Linked DNA regions of Homo sapiens: region 2 is linked to region 1. The links come from fine-mapping of genetic effects on gene expression. Tissue or cell type: whole blood. Region 1 holds a variant in brackets; the other region holds the start of a gene. All regions are shown on one strand. Distances are between the middles of the regions.

The links. PIP is the estimated chance that this variant, and not a neighbour inherited with it, causes the effect.
Region 2: FBXO42 starts here. The variant in region 1 is fine-mapped to the expression of FBXO42 in whole blood (TOPMed, PIP 0.99).

Annotation. Positions count from the first base shown.
Region 1 is chr1:16,291,120-16,295,466 of GRCh38, forward strand. It overlaps FBXO42 (F-box protein 42), which reads right to left. Exons shown (of 10, transcript NM_018994.3): 4 at 3,664-3,798. Among named protein-coding and RNA genes, the nearest start is that of CPLANE2, 56 kb to the left of the region's middle. The variant T/C (reference allele first, on the strand shown) is at 2,546.
Region 2 is chr1:16,350,191-16,354,363 of GRCh38, forward strand. FBXO42 (F-box protein 42) reads right to left here and starts at 2,290. Exons shown (of 10, transcript NM_018994.3): 1 at 2,065-2,290. RefSeq lists an enhancer at 1,555-2,329.

The DNA of each region.
Region 1 (4,347 bases):
TACTCTGTTAGAAGACAACCTCACAACTGACAGTGCCCTCCCCTCAGTCACCCTCCAATCTACCTACCTCGATGCACTAAAATGAGTGAGTCAGGTACACCAAGACTTATAAACAACTATGTTTTATTCAGAAGGACTAATTGACATTTCAGTTAGGAAGTGATTTTGATTAGGACTCATGATAGCATACAGAAACATTGTCTTAGGGCATCTTACATGGGGTTTCTGCCTAAATGAGAATCTCATGGGACTTTTTTTTTTTTAATTTATTATTTTATTTTGAGACAGTCTCACTCCGCCACCCAGGCTGGGGTGCTGTGGCGCAATCTTGGCTCACTGCAACCTCTGCCTCCTGGGCTCAAGTGATTCTCATGCTTCAACCTCCTGAGTAGCTGAGGTTACAGGCACATGCCACCATGCCCTGCTAATTTTTTGTCTTTTTAGTAGAGATGGGGTTTCGCTATGTTGGCCAGGCTCGTCTGGAACTCCTGGCCTCAAGTGATCCTCTCACCTCAGCCTCTCGAAGTGCCAGGATTGTAAGCGAGAGCCACCAAGCCCAGGCTATTTTTTGAGACAGGGTCTCCCTCTTTCACTCAGGCTAGAGTGCAGTGGAGCAATCATCACTCACTGTAGCCTTGAACTCCTGGGCTCAAGCAATCCTCCCACCTCAACCTCTCAAGTAGCTAGGACTACAGGCACATGCCATCATGCCCGGCTCATTTTTAATTGTTTTGTAGAGACAGGGTCTCACTATGTTACCCAGGCTGGTCTCAAATTCCTGGCCTCAAGAGATCCTCCTGTCTCAGCCTCCTAAAGTGCTGGGATTAGAGGAGTGAGCCACTGTGCCCAGCCAGGACTCTTTATTAAACAATTGTTTTTTATAAGTAGACATTTCAAAAAGCTCAGGTTTTCCTCCTTCTAAAACTAGCCTCTAATTGCAGATTAGGATGAGGGAGTAACTAGATTCTTTGAGACATTTTGTTAGAAAATTACTTTAAACATTCAGGAGTTTGTATGTTTTGTCAAAGGGAATATTCCAAATGCTCTATTTTTAAAAATTCATATTCCATAGAGAATGTAAATGATTGAAGCAGTTATTTCTCCAATATTTCTACTTTGGGAATTTCAAAGCATAACCTTTTCTTTGGCTTCCCTCCCTCCCTTCCTGCCTTCCTCTTTTCTTCCCTTCCTCTCTTTCTCTTTCTTTGTTTCTTTTTTTGAGACACAGTCTCACTCTCGCCTAGGCGTCTGGGCTTATATCTGTGGGCTCAAGCAATCCTCCTGTCTCACCCTCCCAAGTATCTGGGACTATGGAGGCATGCCACCATGCCTGGCTAATTTTTTGTTTTTATTTTTTGTAGAGATGGGGGTCTCACCATGTTGCCCAGGTGAGTCTCAAACTCCTGGCCTCAAGGGATCCTTCTGCCTTGGCCTCCTAAAGTGCTGGGGTTATAGGCGTGAGCCACTTCGCCTAGCCACAAAGCAGTCTTTAAACTTGATGGTTTAAAAAAAAAAAGTCTTACTCCATATTACAGGGAGAAATAAGCACAGTAGTTGGCAGAGGCTATGAAGGTCCCCAAACCAGAGCTCCATTTTAACAAGAAAGAGCACCACCCATGCTAAATTATCAAAGGCATAAAGCTTGTTTACAAAATAAAGACAGTAATAGTATTTTGTGACTGAAACTATCAAAGCTCCTCTGAAATAAGACCTGTACAAGATCCCAAGCATGGTGGCAATAGGATGCTTAAGCTGAGAAGATCTTCTATATTTTAGAATCCATAACTCAGCTGAGACTGCAGTAAGCTGTGACTGTGCTACTGTACTCCAGCCTGGGTGACAAAGCAAGATCTTGTCTCAAAAAACAATACAAAACAAAACAGAAGCTGTAACTCCAAATATTAATCAATTTGCACTAAGTGCAATATGGTATAAAGGGCTAGAAAAGGTTATTCTCCAAAGTACAAAATTCTCAGGGCCCTGAAATAGTTCTAGCTATCAAACTTTTTATATGATTACCATTTCTTTATTATTCCAATAGTTTTTGTGGAGACTTGCTCTGTTGCCCAGGATGGAGTGCAACCTCCACCTCCTGGGTTCATGAGATTCTCCTGCCTCAGCCTCCCAAGTAGGTGGGATTACAGGTACCCATCACCATGCCCAGCTAATTTTTGTATTTTTAGGAGAGACAGGGTTTCATCATGTTGGCCAGGCTGGTCTCGAACTCCTGACCTCAGGTGATCCGCCCGCCTTGGCCTCCCAAAGTGCTGGGATTACAGGCGTGAGCCAGTGGGCCTGGCTTGTAGGTTTGTTTTTGTTTTTGTTTTTTATGAATGGCACAAACGGCCTTTATTGGTTGTGACAGGAAGTGGAAGAGAAGGGGATATAATAGCTCCTCCTCCTGGTGTGGCCATCTGCAGACTGGACCACCACCCTCCTACCCTCCAAATGCCAATAATTTTAATAAAGAACTTCATCTACACAAAGCCCAGCTCCACCCATGGTATCCACTCAGTAGGCTCCTCCTATATTTGCCTAATGTAGG[T/C]GGAAAGAACAGGAACTTAAGTTTTAGGGAAGCAAAATGCAGCTTCTTCTCATAAACAGGTTTAAGTCCCTGGCCTAGACATTCACAGTAGCGGTTATAGAAAGGGAAACATAAACTAGCCTTTTTAGCCCATTTAAAAATAGTCATTTAGTACTACTCCACATTTCTCCCAGAGAAGTGCAATAACTTATTTATAGTTACATGGAGAATTGGTGACTATGCCAGGAAATGAAACTCATGTCCCCTCACTCTTAGTCCAGTGCCCTTTCTAATATACAATGATGCCTCCTATCTGGTAATCAAAGTAGTAAGGCAAGGCCTAAATAAATAAGGAACTTGCCCAATGGAAACCCAAATGTCCTTAGTCCTAAGACTGAGTCCTAATACTAAAAAGCCAAATGAATGTTTTGGGAAAAGCTTGCCAAAAAATCTAGCAGAATACTTTATACTCAGTGGACACTATTTCTCCATCACACCAACCCCTCCAATCTATGCCTCCTCAAATTGCCCTGCCTCATGAGTGCAAAAACCATTGTTTTTATTTTTTCCCCCAGGAGAGGTTAGGTCAAAAATAAGAAAATAATCTAGTTTCTTTCTGCCAGATTTCTGGCATAGTGGGACTGGGTAGGAATGTACCTACTGTAGAATCTTCCCACACCCCTGGGTTGTTAAGAGTAACTAGCAGAGGCACGTCCCATACACTCCCCAAATATCTGAGCTGGCAACAACAACAGATATTCAGAGACCTTAGCCCTAGGACAATAGCTTCTGTCAGTCAACTACAGTTCTCACGACTCTGTGTTTCTGTTCTTACTTCAACCTCCTACCAAATGATGTATCACACCTGTATGAGTATACTTGAGAAAACCATGCAAATGAATTCACACAGCAGTACAGCAATTTTGGCAGGGCACCATTACTAATGATAAAGTATAATTTAACAAAAAACAAAGACTTACACAAGCATATTACTATTATCATTTACATGGCACATTAAACTTAAGGACCTGAGTCCCAGTAACCCATCCTTGAGACCAACACCAAAAATGATCAGGTAGAGTTTCCATGCCAAGGGAGTCACCTGGTAAGGAGGCAAAGATCAGCATTTCATCTCTTACCTGAAGCCAAAGGTCGGATCCACTCTTTGCTGTTTAGGTCAAGTCTCCAGAGGTCATTGAAAGCAGCATTGCAGCTGCTCTGGGTACAGCCTCCAAACACATACATAGACTGATTAGCATCATAATAGCATGCACCTAGAAAGAAAATACACAAATAACTGCTGTGAAAATTCTGAGGCCCTTCCAACATTTTAACCATAACATATATTTTTCAAAGCTTATTTCACACATTCAGCAATTTTGTTACCAAGTACCAAATTTCTATTACCAGCCTCTTGTCTCCAAGTGGATCAATATATTACCCTTTAAAACAAGGTCCAGAGGAAAGCTATGAAAATTTTATTTCTGAGCACACTAAGCAAGTTGACAATGATGTAACAGTGTAAGTCCAGCAAGAACACATAATAATTCACATTAAAGGTGCTCAAATGAGGGAAATTTCAGCACAGCTACATAATTGATCTAAATCTGCATCATTATCCTCTAGAGCTAAGCAAAGGTATGCCAACACATGTACTCTGTCCTCCCATTCCTTTCCTCCAATTCTCCTATTGTTTTTGTTTTCAAATTAAACCTGAAGCACAAATCAATAAATGAATCTTTTTTTTTTCTTTCTTTCTTTTTTTGAGATGGAGTCTCCCTCTGTCAGCCAGGCTGGAGTGCAGTGGCATGATCTCGGCTCAC
Region 2 (4,173 bases), 59 kb after region 1:
AAATGATGTCATGGATGTCATGAAGTTGCATCAATACCTGATGATGATTTAGCATAACAGTGCAACATATTATGCCAAGAAGCATAATGATGAGCCACCAGGATGTTTTACTGCATTAATTTCATGACTCTTTATTAGCAAATTGATATGCAAAGTAGCTCTCCAATTTTCTACCACAGAGAAGCTGCTGGTTCAGATTTACATCTTTAGCAAAGACACTAAGAAAATCGACAAATTTCTATGGAAAAGTCTTTGATTTAAAAATAGAAAAGGAGGCTGGGCACGGTGGCTCAAGCCTGGGGTGGGGCAGGGTATCGCTTGAGACCAGGAGTTTGAGATCAGCCTGGGCAACATCGGTGAAACCCCGTCTCTACTAAAATTACAAAAAAAAAAAAAAAAAAAAAAAAATTAGCGGGCGTGGTGGCGCACACCTGTAATCCCAGCTACTCAGGAAGCTGAGGCAGGAGAATCGCTTAAACCCAGGGGATGGAGATTGCAGAGAGCCGAGACTGTGCTACTGCACTCCAGCCTGGATGACAGAGTGAGAAACTGCAAAAAAAAAAAAAAAAAGAAAGAAAGAAAGAAAGAAAGAAAGAAAGAAAGAAAATGGTCAAATAATAACCTAAACAGTTGTCATTTTAACAATGAAAAGCTTTTTAAGATACGCAACATGCCTATGGATCAATGTAGATTGAATCATCTATTTATACTGGCTTGTCAAAAGCAAACAGTTACTGGGTATAAAATGACAACATACAATAGAAAAGACACCCAATCAGATTACACACGTGAATACACTCAAAGTTAGCAATTTAACACAGCATCACTAATGGCCATAAGATATACAGACTTAATTCTAAATATTCAATTCTAAATGATGGTACTTCCCCCAAATTTTCCTTGCCTCTTTAAATCCATGATGTCATCATTCTTAAGCAGAAGTAAAGCCAATTTGTTACAAAAGATATTTTGGTGTGTCCAAGCAAAAGCAATCGCCTCAACAATTCTGCATAGCACAAGTTCAGTGAAGCCATCATTCCTCAAGAAAGAGACCACAAGGCTTCAAACCGACTTCCCTACATGACAGAAACACAATCGAAGTCTCCCAATTAGCATTTAAACAGCAATAAAAGTTGTTCTCAAAAAGGAACAACATAGTTTCAACGTCGGGGCCAGCAACTGCCAGCAAGTAAAACTGGTAATGTGTCAGAATCTTCATCTAGATCGATCAGAATCCCACCACAGAAAAATCCAGACTCTGGCAATTAAGAAATGAGGCTTTTATTTTCCTAACAGAAATCGGGAGATTTAACAGACAAAGCAATTGGTTATTCTGAATCTTAACAAACCGAAGGTTTCAAACGAACTCAGCGCTGAAGTTACTCTGCAGCGACCATCAAGATCTCACAATCGTTTTCTCTTCGCTTACAAATTCGTTCCCACCCTCCACCGTTCCCTTTGCACACACAATTCTCGCCAAGAGAAGCCTTCCACAGTCACAGCATGGATTGCTGTCTCAAGCAAGGAGATCCGCAGTTCCCATTTCTCTAAGGGAACACTCAACAAGCTAGGGGATAGGAAAGGCCTTTTGTGTTTTATTTAACGTAAACCAATTCCAAAATTATCCCTTTGCAGCTGCAGGTTCAGAGATGCTAGCCCCCAGCCGCAGCCCCAATTTTGATGGGCACCCGACCCCCGACTCCTCTCTCGCAAAGGAGTGAAATGTTCGGAGGAGCGATGAAAGATTACCTGACACCCTAAAGCCATCCTTGCCCGGGCCACACACCCCTTCACTGCCCGGGTGAGGGGACGAGAACCACCCTGCTGAGGAGAGGGGGTGGGTTCGCTCCCAACCCAAGGGCTGGCTGGAAAGGAGCTGTCCTCCTCCTCGCCTCACTCGAGGACGGCGATAGCAAGTCACCCTGCCCAACCAGGACCGACCCCCGCGTGGGATACGGGGCCTGCGTCAGACCCCGGGCGCCCGCTGCCCCTTGCCAGTCCCGGGCATAAAGGGCAGAAGGCGCCGGCTCCCCTCTGCGGCCCGGGGAGGAGGAGAGGCCTCACCTGGCCCAGCCCGCTCCACGCTCTCGGGTTCGCTCCGCTGGCGACGGTAATGAGGGAGCCAGGGACAGGGCCAGAGCAGAGGCGCTCTGCCTCAGGCCGCGACAGCCGTGCTCGGGGCTCCTCACAGCTGGCGGGACCCCGAGCCGCCCGGAGCCGCCATCTTCCTCCACTCAAACGCCGCCGCCGCCGCAGCTGCTGCTGCTCAGGCCGGGAGAAGACAGCGCAGAGCGCGCATGCGCCGGGGCGGGCGCGGCGGACGCGCGCGCACTCACGTCAGCGCGGCGGGATGGCGAGGGGCGGCCAGGGGGCGGCGCAGTGTTGAGAAAGGCCGTGGTCACAGGCCGAGGTTCTGTGGAGGGTGGAATGCGCTCGGGGGAGCTAGGCCTCCGCACCCGCCTTCGCCGCGTCTCTAGCGTCGACCTGATAGCCGCACCCACCCTCCGCTGCACTGTCTGGGGCAACTGGGTGGTTTTCCCGGTGGTTTGAGACTAACATTTAGCCAGGAATTAACTCACTTCTACCCCGAGGGCCCGATGAGCAGAGAGGGCTGTGGCGGATGTGAGTGCTCTTGGATATCGCCAAGGGGAGGGAAACTGTGCTTGAGGTGTGCAGGAGAAGTCTTCCCTTAACCGTAGCCTCGTAGCAACCACTGTGAGTTCTTACTAGCTCCACTTTTCAGATGAGGAAACTGAGGCACAGAAAACGATCACTTATTTGCCCGGAGTCACACACCTATCAGTGGAGGTGGGGCGGCGCGGGAAAGAGGATTTAAACTCAGGCTTGTCTGGTTCCCAAGCTCCTTTACTTCCTACTAGCTAGGTTATAGGATCCAGCAAAGTCCCCCTTCTCAAGGGAGCAACCTGGTGTGTAGGTGAGAACCTTCATGAGCCCAGCCCTACAGCATGTGGTCTAAGGAAATGCCAGATACAGAGTCAAAGGCTTCAGTCTAAACTCTGTAAGCCAAAAAAACAAAACAAAACAAAACAAAAAACTAAGCCCCCACCCCCCCCCCAACACCAAACCATCTGAACGGACTTCCTCCTAGGCCAGGGCAGTCTAAAATGTAACCAACCTGAGAGACTGGTTCAGGCCATGACGGGAAGCAGGACATGAGACATGCCTCATTACATCCTTCAGCATTGACATCAACACAACAGACCTTAAGACTGGTAAGAAACATTTACAATCTGTTCTCTCTGGAGCCCACCTGCCACTTGGAGGCTTCACGTGCGTGATAAAACTTTGGTGTCCACAATCCCTTATCATAACCCAGACATTCATTTCTATTGATAATAACTTTTTTTTTTTTGAGACAGGGTCTAACTCTGTTGCCCAGGCTGGAGTCCAGTGATGAGTTCTTGGTTCGCTGCAACCTCTGTCTTTCAGGCTCAAGCTATCCTCCTACCTTAGCCTCCTGAGTAACTGGGACTACAGGCGGGCACCACCATGCCTGGCTAATTTTTCCATTTTTTTTGTAGACACAGGGTTTCGCCATGTTGTCCACTCTCATCTCAAACTCCTGAGCTCAAGTAATCCACTTGCCTCGGCCTCCCAAAATGCTTGGATTACAGGCGTGTGCCACCGCACCAGGCCTATTGATAATAACTATTTCAACTCATTGCCAATCAGAAAATGTTTAAATCTGCCTATAATGTGGAAGCCCCCACTTCAAGTTTCCGGTCTTTCTGCACCGAACCAATGTAGTTTTTATTTATTTATTTACTTATTTTTATTTATTTGTTTATTTTTTTGAGACTGAGTCTTGCTCTGTCGCCCAGACTAGAGTGCAGTGGCACCATCTCCGCTCACTGCAACTTCCGCCTCCTGGGTTCAACCGATTCTCCTGCCTCAGCCTCCCGAGTAGCTGGGATTACAGGCGCCCGCCACCGTGCCCAGCTAATTTTTGTATTTTCAGTAGAAAATACAAAATTCAGTAGAAAATACGGGGTTTCACCATCTTGGACAGGCTGGTCTCAAACTCCTGAACTCGTGATCCACTCACCTCGGCCTTCCAAAGTTCTGGGATTACAGGTGTGAGCCACGGCGCCTGGCCTTTTTATGTATTTATTGAGACAGGGTCTCACTCTTCGCCCAGGCTGGAGTGCAGTG